Homo sapiens: one gene and its partners. The protein of the gene in region 1 interacts with the protein of each later gene in a biochemical or structural test. Each region holds a gene or a part of one and is shown in the gene's direction. Other genes may lie near its edges.

Region 1 (6,286 bases):
CATTGGCAGTAGTGTGGCTTAACTTTTAATGCCATTATCACCAATGAAGCATATCTTTTTGCTGGTTGGTGAGCCAGCCAGACCTGTTATGCCTTCTATTATACTGTCTTCTTCTTAAAAATTGTTTTGAGAAGTCATAATTGTATATACTTACGGGGTACAGTTGCTGTTTTGATATAGGTAGATAATATGGAATGATTAAACCAAAGCTGTTTAACATATTCATCACTTTGTTTGCTTATAATTTTTTGTGGTGAGACACTTGGAATTTACTCTCAGTTATTTTGAATGTAGAATACATTATTGGCTTTAGTTAACCCTGGTGTGCAGTAGGTCTCAAAACTTATTTCTGCTGTCTCTGAAACTTCATTATCTTTGACAAGTAACTCCTCATTCTCTCCCTTGTCCTGTCTCCTACCCCCTAGACTTTGGTGACCATCTACTCTCTATTTCTATGAGTTCAACTTTTTTGGATTCCACAAATGTGAGACTATGCAGTATTTGTGTTTCTGTGCTTGACTTATTTCACTTATGTTGTCCTCTAGGTTTATCCATGCCATAAATGAATAGAATTTTCCTCTTTTTTTAAGGCTGAGTGGTACTCCATTGTGTATATTTATTACATTTTCTTTATCCATGTATCTGTTGATAGACACTTAGGTTGATTCCATATCTTGGCTATTGTGAATAATGCTGCAGTGGACATGGAAGTGCAAATGGACATTCAGATAAGTCTCTTTGGTGATATATATATAATTTTTTCTCTTCAGGTACGTTCTTCAGATGTGTCATGGTCTGATACTCGTAGGACCCTCCGAAAAGATCACCGCTGGGAATCTGGATCCTTATTGGAAAGAGAGGAGAAAGAGAAGCTTTTTAATGAACACATTGAAGCACTTACCAAAAAAAAGAGAGAGCACTTTAGGCAACTTCTGGATGAAACTTCTGCAGTAAGAATCTCTTATTTTTCTCATTTTAATCTGGATGAATCTTGTTAGTAATTTCTTAAAGCAAAGCATTGATATGATTTTTAGTGTCATGGTCTTTAGATTCATTACTGGAATGCATCTTATGACAATTCTCTGATTTTAAAAAATTATGGTATTCTTATTTATTTAGAAATGCCTATTCTTTGCAGTTTTCACATTCATAACTGCTCCCATAGTAATTCAAAATGTCCTTAGCCATGTGGTCAGTGATCCCTCCTAATAATAGATTTAGCAAATTTCTTCTTTTGATCCATTTTCAATTTGGTACTATGGCCTCTTGTTCGGCAGTTTGTACGCTTTGTTATCCAGGTTTTGTTCCTTTTTATTTGCTCTCTTTTTGGTGATGGTTTCTTCAGAAGTTATGATGTTTGCCCATGTAAATACAGGGTTTGCAGGTGATTGTCTTAGGCCACCTTGAAAGTATGGCCATGAAAATAACTCTTGTGGCAAGCCAACAAAAAGAAATTGCATTAACGCTGCTTCCCTGTCCCTAACTAGTCCAGTTACGCTTGGGCATTACAAGAGATCGCAGGTCAGTGTGTAATATTATGTACCTATGTGCTGCAGTTTGACTCCCTAAGTAAAAGTGAGTTGTATTTATGTTTTTTATTCATGTCTTTTCAAAGATTACCTTAACATCCACGTGGAAAGAAGTAAAAAAAATCATTAAGGAAGATCCTCGATGTATTAAGTTCTCCTCCAGTGACAGGGTAAGAGGATTTTGTGTCGAGATTTACTGTCAGTCTATAAATACTTAAATCGGGGCCTAACAGCACTACTATCTTAACCAAAATGAAGTTGATTGTTTTAAGTGAATTACTTTTAAGTGTATGAGAAGTAAATCTGAATTTTAAGTTTATGTATTGTTTCTTGCATGATAAATTAGCAAGACAGCACAATAGAAAGTTTAAAATTTTAGTACTTGGGGTGAAGCTTGTATTTTAGGATCTTAGAAATTTAATGAAGCTGCAGTTTTATTTTAGTCAGGTACCACTAGACAGACATATTTAGGCTGGCAATTGGTACCAAACTATCAAAGCACTTGACTCTTAAGCCAAACAGAGCCCTGTAATGAGATCGCTAGTTCTCATATGCTTCAAGGTCTGAAACAGTGAATGATGTCAAGAAAAGTGTTGTTTACTACAGTCCATTTTATCCCTAGGCCTTTTATTTGTTTTCTTTTACATCATTCCCCTTTCCTGGTTGGTTTCTGTAGGTCTGGGCATCTTTTATAAAAACTCATAAATCTAATATTCTTCCCCCTCAAAGTCTATTGGATTGTAGATGTTTGGACCATAAAATATGCATGACTGGGAAAGAGGGGTAGACCCAGTCTCAGTTTCTAACTTTTCTGACTGTTTAGAATTGATAATAAAGTCTTTTTTAAGTCCAAAGAGTTTATTCATCTTATTACTTTTGGCTTGCCAGAAAGCTAAATGCTCATTACTGTGTAAGTTAAGTATTGAGTGTTAACCTACAGTTGCTGTATCCACAAATTACTCTTTTTGTTCTTGAAGTTAAAAATACAGTGTGCAGGAAGTGAACACTTAATCCTTAATATCCTTATTTTTAAGTGTCCACCTCATGAGGTTGTTGTGAAGATTGAAGTAGATGATCCTCATAAAATGCTCAGCAGTGTAGCACATAGCAAGTTCTCAAGTTTTAGCCACTACTAATTTATGATTCCTCATTCTTTCTATTTGCCGCAAAAATGAGCCTTGCAAATTGTGATTTAATGAATTTTATATATGAACAAAATGTACCCTGTTGCCTTTTTCTTTTGAATTTTAAATTTTATTATGTGACTTACACATTACTGTTTAATAAATAATTGATGTTTATTTTGGAATTAGTGGGTTTTATTTCCATAATCTCAACTTTTTTTTTTTTATTAACAGAAAAAACAAAGAGAATTTGAAGAATATATCAGAGACAAATATATCACAGCCAAAGCTGACTTCAGGACGCTTTTGAAAGAGACCAAATTTATAACATATAGGTGTGTGCAATGAAATGTTTCATATTGGCAGTCATTCTCTTTACTAGTCTTTACTCTAATGGTCAGAGCATTCTTTGCATTCACACACATGTTGACATTATTAATTTTTAGGGATAAGAAGATACCAACTTCTGTCCAAAGTCAAATACAGCCCATATCTACCATACTTTTTTTTTTTTTTAAAGAAAGGGCCCAGATGTCAATTCTTATTTTGTGTTACCCACCCATCCAGTTTTGAATACATACCTTTTTTTTTTTTTTACTTCACCGCTTTTTTTAGGAATACCCTCAACTATATAAGAATTGTATTTCATGAAGAGACTTTTAAAATAATCTTTCACTATCAGTTATCTTTGCCTCCTCTGAAGACTATTCAGTGTGGTTAGATCATTCTAAAGCATGAAATCATCTATTTAAGCTCAGCATAAACATTTTTTTTTCCCTCAGAGGAAAGCATTTTGCTGGGTACATTTAAATAAAAATTGTAAATTATGAAATCAGAGCCTTTAAACAAGATTTCTCTGTAGCAAACCCAACAGTTCTTCACCCCTAACAATTTATCATCAGGAAAACAATTTCGCATTGCTTACCAGTCAGTATGCAGGAAACCATTTTTGTTTCATGCTCCAGCTTTTCTTCTTTAAGAGAGAAATTTGAAACATCTTAATAAAGGGTATGTGCACGGGAGGCTAGATAGTGCTGAGGGTGTGGTTTTTAGATATTTTGTCATTTGGATTTTTTGGTCAGGATCCTTAATGTTTTGCATCAGCTTGGGCTTTTAAATTAGATGTGAAGTAAGACTTCTTTCTACATTTTTATAGTTAATTTAGTGAAAGATGTGAAAGTGAAAGCTTGTGAAAGATGCTGGGATTGGCAGCCCCGCAGACTGAAGTCCTCTGTTCATCCACAGAACAGGTACAGCACGGGCAAGATTTACCCACCCACCCTCAGCCCTGATCTGGAGGGACCACCACTAGGGGTGGGAGGGTAATTCAGCTTCTGAGGCCCTTTCACTCCTTGGAGTCTTTGCTGAGGCGACTTACAAAGGTGACCACTGCCGTGAAATTTTTCTTAAAAAAAAAAAAAAAAAAAAAAATGGAAACACAATTAGGAACTAGATGGACATTTCCAGCTCATTTCTGAAAGACCTGTGAACAGCAGTCAGTAATTCTTGGACTTCTTTTTCTTATTTCAGATCCAAAAAATTAATCCAAGAATCAGATCAGCACCTGAAAGATGTAGAAAAAATTTTACAGAATGACAAACGGTATCTAGTACTGGACTGTGTGCCAGAGGAGAGGCGTAAACTGATTGTGGCATATGTTGATGACCTGGATCGCCGGGGTCCACCCCCACCTCCCACAGCATCGGAGCCCACGAGACGATCAACAAAATAATTCTAAATACTCTTCCATAGGGGCATCTATTCAAAATGCTTGCATGAGCCAATTTTCAGGTTTTTACATATATGTGCATTAGTCAACCTATTGCGAAACCATCTGACAAACAGAAGGAGAAGCATTTGTGAACAGTTTCTGAACAGAACACTTTGGAAATATTTATGCTTTTCTTTGTGTGGCATGACTGACATACATACTCAAATATAGGCTGTCTCTAGTAAATCTTAAAATCTTGAAGCTAAAATTCATCCTTTTATGAGGTGTGGAAGTCAGTGACTTGGTGACGTTCTTCCTAGCAGTGTTAATACATGCAAGAAGTAAGAGCATTTGTGGCTTGAACTTGCCAGATGCAAATACCACAGACTCCAAGAAAACCCGAGTTGGGGTTTGTTTTGTTTTGATTTTTTTTTTTTAAAGCGGGTAAAAGAGAAAACACTGAAAATTGAATTCTTATCTTCCAGAGGCTACAATTATTATAATGGACAATACTTTTACCTTTGTCTCTAAAGATCAGATTAGTTTTATTTGTTCACTTACGTGCTTTGATTATCCCCTCTGAATTATAGACCGAGTCTTGTTGTTTAGCCTAAGAGAAGATTTATGTAGTAATTTCTTCTCAGGTATGGAACCACGGTCATAACTAACATGTTGGCCAGAATAGAACCACTGGTTAAACATATTTTATTCACCATTAAGTGATCTTTATCAATATTCTGGATTAGACAACAAATTACCTTTCTGGGTGTTTCTTGTAAACTATACTCCTGTTTGAATGTTAAACTTTGTTGCTAAAGTTTAATTTTAAGATGTTTGAATGTTCAGTTTATGTATTTGAACTACAATAAACCAACCCTTTTTATATATCTGTATTGTATATGATTATTGTTACTTAATTTTTAAGAGCTTATTTTAACCTGTTTTTAAAAGCAGCAAATAGAATTTCCCACAAAGTAAGTTGACTCTAAATCTTAAGTATTACCTAGTTTTTAAAGGTTTGAATATAATAATGCAGTATTTGCAGTATAAAAAGGAAGGAATTTGTAGAGAATCATTTTGGTGCTCAAGTCTCTTAGCAGTGCCTTATTGCCTCATAGCAAGAAGATGCTGGGGTTTTTTTTGTTTTTGTCCTTTGTATTAATGTATGATGGTTTGCGCCTTTTTGGCATTCTTTCAACATGTCGTGTACATCACACCATGAATCAGTTCCTAATTGATATATCTAGCTTTACCTCCCGAGTTAAAAAAAAATCTTTTTATTTTATGCCTTCATAGGTTGCTCGTTTCAGAGTGCCACATAAATAAAATGTTTAACAAAATATATATGTTAATAGAATAATTTATTTTCCATTATCTCATACCGACTATGATTGTAACAAATCCTAGAAAGAAGGAATACCAACAGATCTGTATTTGTATGTTGTGTGCATACAGTCACAGACACACACATTCACATCCATGTTATATAGTTCATAGCTTAAATCTATTAAGTGCCATGGAAATTTTGTGAACTCTTTATGTAGGAACCTGGCATTGATCAGACTAAGGTCTTCAGCTGTAAAGTTGATAAACAGGATATGTTTTTTCTTTTTATGCGTACAAAGGATCTTACTCTGTCTCCTAGGCTGGGGTGCAGTGGTGCCATCATAGCTCACTGTAACTTTGAACTCCTGGTTTCAGTGATCCTTCTGAGTAGCTGAGACTGCAGGCATGCATTACCATGTCTGGCTTTTTTTTTTTTCTTTTTAAAATTTTTTTGGAAATGGTTTCACTCTGTTGCCCAGGCTGGCCTCAAACTCCTAGCCTCAAGCCATTCTCCCACCTCGGCCACCCAAAGTGCTAGGATTACAGGCGTCAACCGCCACACCTGGCCGCCTTCTGTTTCCTTTTTTTTCTTTCTT
Region 2 (7,000 bases), on another chromosome or scaffold:
TAAAACTCTTTCTTACTGGAATATCCTTTACAGAAGGTTGAGATAGTCATCTGAGCCTTTTTAAAAGAAAAAACTGCAGGTGAAAAAGGAGTTAGTTGATGTGAAAGTTTTAGTGAAATTCTGGGTTGTATAAATAAGTTGCTAGGAATTGGCAAGGTAGTGAAGTGGTGACTCACACAGGTAATGTAATTGTTAGATTTTTTAGCAAATCAGGAATATGTCAATATAAGTACAATGTTGAATTCAAACAATCTGTTGAATTAAATTCTGTTGATTAGAATAACTCTAATTTAAGAAAAATTCCAAACTGTAGATTTATTTTTCTCTGATCAGTAAAAAGAAAATGAGTTCCAGCTTGACTTTAGCTGTTCAAGTGAGAAGTCTGAGGAAGTGCATGTTAATGAGCCAGTGACCCATAGGTAGCTGGGTTAAAGACACTTTGGATTTGGATAATCCGGGAAGCAATTAATCCCTAATTGTTGAACAGGCAGTCCTGGGTAAAGAGGACCTAAAATGCTGCACTATTAACAGCATTAGACGGCCAGGTTTGTACTTCATAGTTTTAGGCTGTCTTCTTCACAAGTTTTAGAAAAAGAATTTAGGAGCTAGAGCCCTGGTGCAGGATCAACAGCAGCTCATACTCCTATTTTAAAATAATTTGGTCGTGGCCTCCCTTCAGTTTTAATGTGGCACTGGTAAATCTACCTGGTTCTGGCATGCTTCACTTTGATTTCCTGCTATCCTCTACTGCTTGCCTCTAAATCAAGGTAAAGAGCAGAGCAGGTATGTATTAATGTCACATTGTCTTGATTATTTTAAATACTTAAAATATACATGTTAAACCTTGGTATTAGTTTCACAGGCAGTTTACTTTTCAGTACATAATTTAACAGGAGTGACTTGGTGGGAGTGGGGCTTTAAACTGAAAATTGGAACAACAGCATGATGTGGAGAAAAGTTGTGCAGCATTAAGAAGTACATGCAAAAATTAAGTAACCAAGTTTTGTCTACATAGCAGATATGTTTACATTGGATGTCAAAAGTAACACAGTATTTGATATAATTACAGATAATTGTGATCTACATTTTAAAATATCAAGAGATCGTCTCAGTGCTTCTTCCCTTACAATGGAGAGTTTTGCTTTTCTTTGGGCTGGAGGAAGAGCATCCTATGGTGTGTCAAAAGGCAAAGTGTGTTTTGAGATGAAGGTAAATGCAATTTTATGATTTGTTTGTTTGTTTGTGGAGACAGTCTCACTCTGTTCCCTAGGCTGGATTGCCGTGGTGCGACCTAGGCTCACTGCAACCTCCGCGTCCTGGGTTCAAGCGATTCTCCTTGCTTCAGTCTCTCAAGTAGCTCGGACTAGAGGCACACACTACCACACCTGGCTAATTTTTGTATTTTTAATAGAGATGGGGTTTCACCACGTAGGCCAGGCTGGTCGCCAACTCTTGACCTCAGGTGATCCACTGTCTCGGCGTCCCAAAGTGCTGGGATTACAGGCATGAGCCACTGTGCCCAGCCTTTTTTTTTCCTTTTTAAAATAGTGACAAGGTCTCACCATGTTGCCCAGGCTGGTCTTGAACTCCTAAGCTCAAGTGATCTGCCCGCCTGAGCCTCTCAGAATGCTGGAATTACAGGTGCTTCATACTGCTAAGTTATCAAAGGTACTTATTTTTGAAGCTTCCTGTAAATTAAAAGAGGAGCTTGGAACCTTCATTTTGTTGTGACAGTTAATCACGGTTGTTATGTTAGAACTTGCCATGCAGAGCTAGGCGATTTTTTATTTAGGGTACTTCATTTTTATCAAGCATTTGAAAGGGCCACCAAAGAGTTAAAAATAAAATTTGGTTACATTACTGCTTTTGTTGGTGAGAAAAACATTAATTGTATCCTTTAATTGGCTTTAAGTTAAAGACTGACAACATGAACTTTAAAAATATTAAGTATTCTTTTAAATATGGGTCAAATAAGTATTTAACTCTTTAAATTTCAAGTTATAAGCACATCAGTTTAAAGTTCTTACAAATATTGGGGGTGGGCTAGAGTGTGCCTTCTTTGTATTTATAGCTAGAGGAAGATTAGCCCGTGGCGCAATGAAATATGCGAGAGTTAAGGGGTTACCTCCTTGGTGTATTATTTTAATTATTTAATGATTTGACTTTCAGGTTACAGAGAAGATCCCAGTAAGGCATTTATATACAAAAGATATTGACATACATGAAGTTCGTATTGGCTGGTCACTAACTACAAGTGGAATGTTACTTGGTAAAGCTTCTTTTTGACTGATGTGGGCTCATGAATGTTCAGGAGGGTCTGATTTCAGTGTTTTTTAACTAGAGGGCATTCTAAGCCTTTTGTCTGTTTTTATCTATTCTGTTAATACTTCAGACAGGTAATATTAGCACATAGTAGGCACAGGCTACATTTTAGTTTTTGTTCCTTTATTAGAAGTTTATGACCAATGGTTGAAATAAAATCTTACCCGTGATATGCAAATCGTCAACTAATTTGGTCTCTGCGTATATATCCCTCCTAACTTCCATCAATTCTGGTACAGAGATAGAAAAGTAATAGTGTCAGTGACAGGTGATTAGGTTATATGCTTATTTCTCTTGTAGCCTACATCTTAAGTAGTAAAATAGATGAGTCTTTGGACTATTTTAAACATCTACTTCATGAAGATTAATTATTTTCTTAGGTGAAGAAGAATTTTCTTATGGGTATTCTCTAAAAGGAATAAAAACATGCAACTGTGAGACTGAAGATTATGGAGAAAAGTTTGATGAAAATGATGTGATTACATGTTTTGCTGTAAGTTAAAGCTAACTTTCTATGTATAAATGGCAAAGTTAGTAGCTATATCTAGGAACTTTAAAGAAGCTTTACTGAGGTCAGTTTTCAATATGAGCAACAAAATACACCAGTCCCTGGATTAGTGTAAAGACTTCATTCAGCAGTTGAATTGGGAAAACACAGGACATTTTTGAGGAACTCACTAATTCATTTTGACTGAAAACAGTGAACATGAAATTGACCTAGAAAATTCAGTCTAGCTTCTAGGTCAGTATTGTTTCTGGTTCTGGAGATACGTGCTTCATGGTTTACAACCATCAGATTTCTTAACTGTGTAGCCCTTAAAGGCCACCTAATAGTTCTTTAACCTGTAGCTTCCACAGGATAAGCTTTGCTCCTAATTTTAATTCTTAGTTTTTTAGAAAGTTTAAGGAAGCAGATTTTAACTGTTGAATTTTTTTCTGTGTAACAGAACTTTGAAAGTGATGAAGTAGAACTCTCGTATGCTAAGAATGGACAAGATCTTGGCGTTGCCTTCAAAATCAGTAAGGAAGTTCTTGCTGGACGGCCACTGTTCCCGCATGTTCTCTGCCACAACTGTGCAGTTGAATTTAATTTTGGTCAGAAGGAAAAGCCATATTTTCCAATACCTGAAGAGTATACTTTCATCCAGAACGTCCCCTTAGAGGATCGAGTTAGAGGACCAAAGGGGCCTGAAGAGAAGAAAGATTGTGAAGTAAGGGATTTTTTTTTTTTTAACTGTGGCATTTGAATATTGCTTGCCTGGCACAAAATGACATTTAGAAGAACTAGATGATTAGTCTGTTTCATTTACTTTGTGCTGTGCATATTGCTCTTAAGTAATTGTTTCCCCCTTATGTTGACTGTTAATCTTTCCATAAACAAATTTTTGTCCGTTAGTGTAAGGGCTATGAAAACTTAGATATTTAAATTGGCCTTAACAATATTTAAAGAATTATTAGGTGGTGTCTACTGACAGTGAAATGACATTTCTTTTCTTTTCACTAGGTTGTGATGATGATTGGCTTGCCAGGAGCTGGAAAAACTACCTGGGTTACTAAACATGCAGCAGAAAATCCAGGGAAATATAACATTCTTGGCACAAATACTATTATGGATAAGATGATGGTAAGTAAAATGTTTAGGGCCTGATCTCAGTGTTTAAAATAGACTGGGAGAGGCTGGGCATGGTGGTTCACGCCTGTAATCTCAGCATTTTGAGAGGCTGAGGTGGATGGATCACCTGAGGTCAGGAGTTTGAGACCCACCTGGCCAACATGGCGAAGCCCCGTTCCTACTAAAAATTTAAAAATTAGCTGGGTGTGGTAGTGGGTTCCTGTAATCCCAGCTGCTCGGGAGGTTGAGGCAGGGACAATTACTTGAACCTGGGAGGCAGAGGTTGCAGTGAGTTGAGATCGTGCCATTGTACTCCAGTCTGGGCGACAGAGCAACACTCCGTCTCAGAAAAAAAAAAAAAAGAAAAGAAAAATTATAGACCGGGAGGTATTCTAGGTAAACTTTTTGTCTTTGTCTCTATCCATTTTGTTAGTATCTTAAAGAGATGGGAGGAAAGGCAAGATTAAGTTGGTTCTTTCAACTCTGAGGGTAAACTGCCTTCCACTGGCTAGGCTTCTGTTTTTTTCCGTAGTGTTTTTGAGCTCTTAACATCTAGCAGCTAAAAAGAATTGAGTAAGTGTAAGGTCTTGTTACATAGTTTAAGTGACCCTGTTTTTGTAGCAATAATGGACAAAGGTAATATTTAAATTATAAAATGTTGCCTGCTTTACATATAGATATGAGTTGAATTTTAAAAAGCATAACTTATTAAAATTCACAAGTTCAAGGGGAAATTTTAACTTTTGAATATAGGTGGCAGGTTTTAAGAAGCAAATGGCAGATACTGGAAAACTGAACACACTGTTGCAGAGAGCCCCCCAGTGTCTTGGGAAATTTATTGAGATTGCTGCCCGAAAGAAGCGAAATTTTATTCTGGATCAGGTACGCTGTAGCTTTGAAATTGAAAAATATTAACTGATAATTTAGATAGATTGGTGTAGAATTAATGTTTAGGGTTGTAAACATAAATTTCTTTTTTTAAAGACAAATGTGTCTGCTGCTGCCCAGAGGAGAAAAATGTGCCTGTTTGCAGGCTTCCAGCGAAAAGCTGTTGTAGTTTGCCCAAAAGATGAAGACTATAAGCAAAGAACACAGAAGAAAGCAGAAGTAGAGGGGAAAGACCTACCAGAACATGCGGTCCTCAAAATGAAAGGCATGGAATTTTAATTCTGTTACTGTGTGAAATCTTCTTTTTAAAAGAATGTTTTTCCTACATATTCTGCTTGTGTAACTATGTTAAATCTATTAGGACTTAGGCCTCCTGAAAGTTAACATTTTTTCCAGCAATACTGCTTCAGGAATTAAAATTGCAGTTGTTACATATGCATATATGTTTGGTCTGTTTTTATTTTTAGGAAAATATGTTACTAAACCTCAAGAATTGTCAGCTTTAGGATTGTGAGGATTCGTGGTGGGTTTCTAAATTAATAATATGACTTTGTTTCCTGCAGGAAACTTTACCCTCCCAGAGGTAGCTGAGTGCTTTGATGAAATAACCTATGTTGAACTTCAGAAGGAAGAAGCCCAAAAACTCTTGGAGCAATATAAGGAAGAAAGCAAAAAGGCTCTTCCACCAGAAAAGAAACAGAACACTGGCTCAAAGAAAAGCAATAAAAATAAGAGTGGCAAGAACCAGTTTAACAGAGGTGGTGGCCATAGAGGACGTGGAGGATTCAATATGCGTGGTGGAAATTTCAGAGGAGGAGGCAAGTTAATTTTGAGTGTTCTGTATTTAGTTCAGGATCGAAACAAGTGATAATTTTATAGTTTGGATGTAGCTGAAGTTTCTTCCTCATTAATGGTATACTGTCACAGTAACTAAAGTATTCATGTGATTTGATATTAAATACACCTAGGTTATGTTAATGGTTAGAATTAAACATTTCTTTTGTCTTTAAACAATTATTTTTGGAGAAAAAGGAACAATCTAGAGGAATCCTAAGTCTTCTGTATAAGTAGGGTACAATATACAATGAAACTAAAACAGCTCTTGTCTTTTAGCCCCTGGGAATCGTGGCGGATATAATAGGAGGGGCAACATGCCACAGAGAGGTGGTGGCGGTGGAGGAAGTGGTGGAATCGGCTATCCATACCCTCGTGCCCCTGTTTTTCCTGGCCGTGGTAGTTACTCAAACAGAGGGAACTACAACAGAGGTGGAATGCCCAACAGAGGGAACTACAACCAGGTAATGATTCAAGATCCCTGGAAGCATGATTGATAACTGTAGCTTAGTCTGGAAAGGTGTGAGCTTTATGTTGGGGTGTCTTAGTAATCCGTAAGGAACATGATAGGCATTGACATAAGGAAAATTGAACTAGTAATGGTGAAATGAGTCTACTTACTTTTGAGTTTTTTCAGGTGTACTAAACAAGTCAGATGCATTTCTCATAATGAATAAAAAATTAAAACATAAGAAACCAGCAGAGGGTATCCAGAATTTGTGTATTGCTTGCTACCTAAGATTAGGGGCTAGCAACCTGTCCATTTCTGCTCCTCTCTCTCACCCCCACAAACCTAACAAGCAATTGGGCTCAGAGCTCTTAGAGAGTATTTCCTTTTTGTAGAACTTCAGAGGACGAGGAAACAATCGTGGCTACAAAAATCAATCTCAGGGCTACAACCAGTGGCAGCAGGGTGTAAGTAATTTCTTATGTGCTTTATGTACATTAATTGTATTTTGAGTTCCTAAGATTTATCAGTCTTGAAAAAGATCTTGTTCAGGGATTGAAGTGTTTATAAGTGTTAATAGGGTAAAGTGTGAATCGTCTTGCAGTAGTAGCCATAATCTACCTTTTGAAGGCAAAATAGGTTGAAGATTGCTATAAGTTAAATTTTTTTAATAAAGTAATATTATTTAATATATACAGTTCTTTTACTGCTAGCTTTAATTGTGTAAACTAACAAAGTCATGATGTTTCGTTTTGTAATGTGTATTGATAATTATGGGATATTAAAACTAAATCTGGTTTGGTAGAAATCAGAGGTATGACAGGTATAAATTTGTTTCCAGCAAATTACTCTGAATTAGATTCATTGTCATTTCCTAAAAACAGTTTGAGTGGCTT
Region 3 (7,000 bases), on another chromosome or scaffold:
TTTGTCTGTTAAGCTGAGTAGTCTCTTCACATACTATTTAGGTCACAACTATTTATTGGGCCACGTGCTGTGGCACATGCCTATAATCCCAGCCCTTTGCTGAGGCGGGAGCATTGCTTGAGCCCAGGAGTTTGAAGCTGCACTGAGCTATGATTCCACCACTGCGCTTTAACCTGGGTGACAGAGTGAGACCCTGTCTCTTAAAAAAAAAAAAAAATTGAACATGGCCTAGATACCAAAAGATGCACTTCCAAGCCACTGGATTGTAAATCTGGTTGGGAAGATACTATGCAGAATACTGGGAGTTACGAAAAGCAGTGTGGGAGAGTAGAAAGAGCAGACATGTGCCTTGCCTATTTTTATTTGATCTGTGACCTTAAACAAATAACCTGAGTCCCAGTTTTCTCATTTGTGAAATGGGGATAATATTACATACTTCGCATGTGTGGCTATAAGACTTTTTAAAGATTTAATACACCGAAAATGCCTGGAACATAATAGATACCCAATAAATGGTAGCTGCTATTATTGTTAGTTAATACAGAGCATAGGAGTAAGACAAACACGTTAGAATCTATTATATTCCAGTCATATTGCCATTTCTTGACACATGCTTTTGACGTTACCTTCTACTTGGTGGCAAATTTTCATCTTTTAAGAGTGAATTTGATTTTTGGAATCACCAAAAAGCAGATTCAGACATAGGTATGAACATTTTCTTTTTTTTTTTTTTGAGGCAGAGTTTTGTTCTTGTTGCCCAGGCTGGAGTGCAATGGCACGATCTTGGATCACCGCAACCTCCGCCTCTTGGGTTCAAGCAATTCTCCTGCCTCAGCCTTCCGAGTAGCTGGGATTACAGGCATGCACCACCACATCTGGCTAATTTTTGTATTTTAATAGAGACTGGGTTTCTCCATGTTGATCAGGCTGGTCTCGAACTCCCGACCTCAGGTGATCCTCCCGCCTCGGCCTCCCAAAGTGCTGGGATTACAGGCGTGAGCCACCGTGCCTGGCATAGGTATGAATATTTTCATTGGTGATGGTGGTGGGGCGACCTCAGAAATGAAATGTGACCATCATATAATAGTGTTTACAGCTCTGACTGATAAACTTGCTTTGGAGGCAATTCCAAAAGAGGTGTTTGCAGTGTTTGAGCAATGAGACTGTTACTGGACATATGTAACTTCCCACAATGAATCTGCTGTATATATTTTGAAAATCGCTCATTGATATTAGAGTAAGTGACATAGCCTGTATATGCTGTGGGAGAGCAGAGGTGGAGGGACTCAGAAGAAAATGGATTGCTTTGGGAAAGCCTTGAGAAGATGGGACTTGGATTGAACCTTGAAGGGTAGGGAGGATTTGGTAGTAAGGGAAGGGGGGATATCAGAATATTGTGAGGGGAGTCACAAGAGCAAAGCATATAATTTGGTTTATTCAGCAAACATTGATTGAGCACCTGCTGTGTGCTGTACATTTGGCTGAACTTGGGAACCCAGAAGGAGGAACTGCTCTGACATCAAGGGGTACACAGTATACTGGGGAAAGAGCACACAGAATAAATAATTATAATAGTCTATTCAAGTGGTAGGTATGCACAAGCTGCAGTGGAAGTGCAGAGGAGGGCTCCTAACCTAGCCTAGCAATAAGAAGGGAAGAGGAGAAGCCAAGCTCAAGCTGATTGGTGTGGTAGGTTACTATGTAAGCAAAGGCTTTGAGACTTTATTTTTTTACTTATTTATGTATTTGAGATGGAGTCTCTCTCTGTTGCCCAGGCTGGAGTGCAGTGGCACAATCTGGGCTCACTGCAACCTCCACCTCCCAGGTTCAAGTGATTCTTGTGCCTCAGCCTCCTGAGGAGCTGGGACTACAGGCACACGCCACCACACCGGGCTAATTTTTTGTATTTTTAGTAGAGATGGAGTTTCATCATGTTGCCCAGGCTGGTCTCCAACTGCTGAGCTCAGGCAATCCTCCCGCCTCGGCCTCCCAAAGTGCTAGGATTATAGACGTGAGCCATCACACCCAGCCACAGTTTGAGACTTTATGATTTAGGCAGTGCAAAGCCTTTGAAAAAACTGGATCAAGTTTTTAGGGAGGTTGGTGAGTTGGTGTTATGCAAAATGAATTTGGAGGGGTAAGAGACAAAGCAAGGAGAACATTCGGAAGGCTTTTGCAGTAGAGAACAGGCTAAATATAAGGAAGACCTGAATTAGAATTGTGGAGGAAGGCATGGAAAAGCAGGAAAAAAATCAAGAACAGATAGGGTTCTGACTGACTGGTAGGAAATGTAAAAAGGCCATACATTTATTCTGAATGTTGGTATCTGGAAGAATGGTGATGCTGTTCAAGTAATAAGGACAAAGGGGAACCAGGCACTGTGAGCCTCTGTGGGGTGTGTTACTCTTTTAGCTCATGTGTTTCAAGTCATTCTACCCCTTGCCGTCTCCACATCCAAACCTAACTACTTTGGATTTTAATTGCAGCTCCTCCACCCCCACCACCTGTGATCCGAAATGGTGCCAGGGATGCTCCCCCTCCCCCACCACCATACCGAATGCATGGGTCAGAACCCCCGAGCCGAGGAAAGCCCCCACCTCCACCCTCAAGGACGCCAGCTGGGCCACCCCCTCCTCCTCCACCGCCCCTGAGGAATGGCCACAGAGATTCTATCACCACTGTCCGGTCTTTCTTGGGTGAGTAGCTAGCTATCTGTAGTCTCATGGTTCCTGCGGTGACTTCACCCACTCCAGTGCCATGGCTGCTAGATGGCCACCATAGAGTGGGAATGGCCACATGGGATCCTTTGTTCACAATAGTTCTCCTGCTGACTTCATCCTCAGAGGTATGGGCTGTGTTCATTGACTTCCTTATCTTGATATGAATTCTAAGCATGGATGCTTTGGAGTAGATTGAAGTAAAATCAGCAAGTGTTGTGCTAACTCTAAATCCACTCCAAAGATCACTTTTTGTAGCTAGCTTTTAGGTCAGAGACTCTGTATCTTCTTTAGGATTATTCAGACAGGACTTATGTATTCTCCTAGGAAGGAGTGTTCCTTTCTAGCTCTTCAAAAACAAAACACTTGATTGTTCTTGGAATTATTATTTTTTAATTATTTTTTATAGAGACTGGGTCTCTGTTGCCCAGGCCGCTGTCAAACTCCTGGTCTCAAGCAGTCCTCCAACCTTGGCCTCCCAAAGTGCTGGGATTACACATGTGAGCCATCACATCCAGCCTTTCCTTGGAATTCTTGAAAAAAAAAAAAAAAAAAAAAAAAAAAAAAAGAAAAGTCCCATGGCACATTGCCTGGAAAGAAAAAAGAAGAAAGAATGACAAAAAATATTAAAGAAAAAAGGATTGGGCGTGGTGGCTCATGCCTGTAATCCCAGCACTTTGGGAGGCCAAGGTGGGAGGATTGCTTTTAGCCCAGGAACTCAAGACCAGCCTGGGCAACATGGTGGAACTTCATCTCTCTAAAAAATACAAAAATTAGCTGGGTGTGGTGGCACACGCCTGTGTTTCCAGCTACTCAGGAGGATTGCCTAAGTCCAGGGAGGTTGAGGCTGCAGCAAACCATTGATCACATCACTGCACCCCAGCCTGGGCGACAGAGAGAGAATCTGTCTCAAAAAAAAAAAAAAAAAAAAAAAGTCGGCTGGGTGCAGTGGCTCACGCCTGTAATCGCAGTACTTTGGGAGGCCGAGGCAGGCGGATCACCTGAGGTCAGGAGTTTGAGACCAGCCTGGCTAACATAGTGAAACCCCATCTCTACTAAAAATATAAAAAATTAACTGGGCATGATGGCACGCAGCCATAATCCCAGCTACTCAGAAGGCTGAGGCAGGAGAATCTCTTGAACCCAGGAGGTGGAGGTTGCAGTGAGCCAAGATTGTGCCACTGCACTCCAGCCTGGGTGACAGAGCAAGACTCCGTCTCAAAAAAAAAAAAAAAAAAAAACAAAACCCAAAACATTACACACATTAATCCAAAGCCACTAACTAGCAGTGTTATTTTGAGGAAGTCACGTTACTTCTCTGGGCCTCACTTCCCTTATTTGTAAAATTAGGTTGACTAGATCAGAAGTGTATCAGATTAACTTTTCCAAGATTATAAATGTTGGGGGGGCTCTACCTAAGAGATTCTGATTCCTTGGTTCTGGGATGTAACCCTAAGTAAAGGTTGTCCATAGGCTATTGTTAGACCCGTCTGTTGAGGACCCTTGGAAGAAATCTCTGAAAGGTCCCTTGCAACCCTAACACTCTAGATTTTTTTTTTTTGAGATAGCGTCTTGCTTTGTCATCCAAGCTGGAGTGCAGTAGCGCAATCACGGCTCACCGCAGTCTCGACCTCCCAGGCTCAAGCAATCCTCCCATCCTTCAGCCTTCCAAGTAGCTGGGACCACAGGTGTGCACCACCATGCCTGGCTAATTTTGTATTTTTTTTGTAGAGATGAGGTTTTGCCATGTTGCCCAGACTGGTCTCAAACTCCTGGGCTCAAGCTACCCACCCACCTTGGCCTCCCAAAGTGCTGGGATTACAGGCATGAGCCACCATGCCCAGCTTCTAGATTCTTTAATGGTTGCTGTCCTTACCTACCCACTGTCCTCCATGTTCTAGTCTATTCCTATTAGGTATGCCAGGGTTTTTGCTTTAAAGATATATCCTTATTGTAGAAACCTTTGGGATGTGATCAAGCCGCACTTACAGAAAATTTGAGCTTTCTGATGGAGGGGCTGTAGAAAGTAGTAGTAGAAGCCATGAGATGGCTGTCCCAACTATGTAAGTGAAGGTAACATGGACTGAAAGGGAATCATCTGGTCAAATCTCTCACTAGTCATAGACAGATATTCCCATTTTAAATTAATTCCTACCAATTTCTGGATTTAGATCAGTTGTTTTCCCGTGGTGACAGTCTGTAAGATGTTATTAAAACCCAGAATTGGCTGGGCCTGGTGGCTTACGCCAGTAATCCCAGCGCTTTGGGAGGCCGAGGCAGGTGGATCACCTGAGGTCAGGAGTTCAAGACCAGCCTGGCCAACATGGTGAAACCCTATCTCTACTAAAAATACAAAAATTAGCCAGGTGTGGTGGTGCCTGCCTGTAATCTCAGGGACGCTGGGGCAGGAGAATCGCTTGAACTTGGGAGGTGGAGGTTGCAGTGAGCCAAGATCATGCCACCGCACCCCAGTCTGGGCAACAGAGTGAGACTCCGTCTCAAAAAAAAAAAAAAAAAAAAAAAGAATTATATTTCTTTCTGCTACCATGCAAACAACTGAGCTCCTTTCCTGTTCTGTGCCTGACTTGGTGGAAAGGTTTAAAGAATCAGCTCAGGCTAGGCGTGGTTCACACCTGTAATCCCAGCACTTTGGGAGGCCAGGTGGGGAGATTGCCTGAGCACAGGAGTTTGAGACTAGCCTGGCCAAGATGGTGAAACCCCGTCTCTACTAAAAATACAGAAAACTAGCCGGGTGAGGTGGTGGGCACCACTGCACTCCAGCCTGGGTGACAGAGCGAGACTGTCAAAAAATAAATAAATAAAGAATGGGCTCAAAGACGCACTACTTAGTACAGAGAGGTTTTGAATACATGCTCTGTGCATGCAAGGCACGTGGGGTGATGCTGCTGCTGTTCTCAGGGTGGTTGGTTTGGTGGGGCAGTAGGTCCTCACAGTACCTCAGAATGCCTGAGAGATTAGTAAGTGGGGAGGGTCGAAGCGATCAGAGGCCTGTGGGAGCACAAGCAAGGATGATAGGAATTAATGTTCTATTCTTTTCGCAGATGATTTTGAGTCAAAGTATTCCTTCCATCCAGTAGAAGACTTTCCTGCTCCAGAAGAATATAAACACTTTCAGAGGATATATCCCAGCAAAACAAACCGAGGTGAGAATAATAATAAGAAGGTTTTTCCATAATTGCATAGAATGTAGAATCTGTGCATTTTCTTAGGTTAAAATTTGCTTCTCGCTGGGCACAGTGGCTCATACCTATAATCCCAGCACTTTGGGAGGCCAAGGTGGGTGGATCACGAGGTCAGGAATTCGAGACCAGCCTGACCAACATAATGAAACCCTGTCTCTACTAAAAATACAAAATTAGGCTGGGCGCGGTGGCTTATGCCTATAATCCCAGCATTTTGGGAGGCTGAGGTGGGCGGATCATGAGGTCGGGAGATCAAGACCATCCTAGCTAACACGGTGAAACCCCGTCTCTACTAAAAATACAAAAGATTAGCTGGGCGTGGTGGCACACACCTGTAGTCCCAGCTACTCGGGAGGCTGAGGCAGGAGAACTGTTTAAACCCAGGAGGCGGAGGTTGCAGTGAGCCAAGATCACGCTACTGTACTCCAGCCTGGGTGACAGAGGGAGACTCCGTCTCAAAAAAAAAGAAAAAAAATTGCTTCTCATCATCTTCGTTGTCCTTTTTTTTTTTTTTTTTTTGAGATAGGGTCTCCCTATCGTCACCCAGGCTGGAGTGCAGTGGTGCCATCTCGGCTCACCCCAAACCTCTGCCTCCCAGGTTCAAGTGATTCTCCTGCTTAAGCCTCCCAAGTATCTAGGATTATAGGCGTGTGCCACCATGCCGGATTATTTTTGTAATTTTAGTAGAGACTGGGTTTTGCCTGGTTGGCCAGGCTGGTCTGAAACTCCTGACCTCAGGTGATCCGCCCGCCTCGGCCTCCCAAAGTGCTGGGATTACAGGCGTGAGCCACCTTGCCTGGCCACTCATCTTCATTTTCTTAGGCAAAACAATAATAACACGTAGTCCCCAGATTTTAAAGGTTAGCTTAAAGAGCCTGTCTCTCATTTTAGGAATGTGTGGGTTGTTCAGATTCTGGTGGGTGACCTGTATGTGTGTGGTCTTTATTTTGTTTTTTTTCAGCTGCCCGTGGAGCCCCACCTCTGCCACCCATTCTCAGGTGAAGCCTGGCTTGGTCCCGTTCCTCAGGAAAAGGATGGACCTTCTCTTCTTCTCAGATGGTCCCTTCCATTCCCCTGAAA

The links.
Region 2: the proteins of TCERG1 (region 1) and HNRNPU form a complex in vitro, tested with the Homo sapiens proteins (one study listed by BioGRID).
Region 3: the proteins of TCERG1 (region 1) and WIPF2 form a complex in vitro, tested with the Homo sapiens proteins (one study listed by BioGRID).

What each region holds. Positions count from the first base shown.
Region 1 is NC_000005.10:146,506,258-146,512,543, forward strand, and holds the end of TCERG1 (transcription elongation regulator 1), read left to right. Parts: intron 1-770; coding exon 771-950; intron 951-1,375; coding exon of another isoform or gene 1,376-1,483; exon of another isoform or gene 1,484-1,521; intron 1,522-1,615; coding exon 1,616-1,699; intron 1,700-2,887; coding exon 2,888-2,988; intron 2,989-3,809; exon of another isoform or gene 3,810-3,903; intron 3,904-4,183; coding exon 4,184-4,385; 3' UTR 4,386-5,704; downstream 5,705-6,286. UniProt on the Homo sapiens protein: Transcription factor that binds RNA polymerase II and inhibits the elongation of transcripts from target promoters. Regulates transcription elongation in a TATA box-dependent manner.
Region 2 is NC_000001.11:244,854,544-244,861,543, reverse strand, and holds part of HNRNPU (heterogeneous nuclear ribonucleoprotein U), read left to right. Parts: intron 1-1,069; coding exon 1,070-1,209; intron 1,210-2,169; coding exon 2,170-2,269; intron 2,270-2,702; coding exon 2,703-2,815; intron 2,816-3,269; coding exon 3,270-3,533; intron 3,534-3,826; coding exon 3,827-3,946; intron 3,947-4,687; coding exon 4,688-4,816; intron 4,817-4,918; coding exon 4,919-5,087; intron 5,088-5,385; coding exon 5,386-5,640; intron 5,641-5,935; coding exon 5,936-6,120; intron 6,121-6,499; coding exon 6,500-6,571; intron 6,572-7,000. UniProt on the Homo sapiens protein: DNA- and RNA-binding protein involved in several cellular processes such as nuclear chromatin organization, telomere-length regulation, transcription, mRNA alternative splicing and stability, Xist-mediated transcriptional silencing and mitotic cell progression.
Region 3 is NC_000017.11:40,271,304-40,278,303, forward strand, and holds part of WIPF2 (WAS/WASL-interacting protein family member 2), read left to right. Parts: intron 1-2,486; coding exon 2,487-2,696; intron 2,697-5,779; coding exon 5,780-5,881; intron 5,882-6,881; coding exon 6,882-6,922; 3' UTR 6,923-7,000. UniProt on the Homo sapiens protein: Plays an active role in the formation of cell surface protrusions downstream of activated PDGFB receptors. Plays an important role in actin-microspike formation through cooperation with WASL.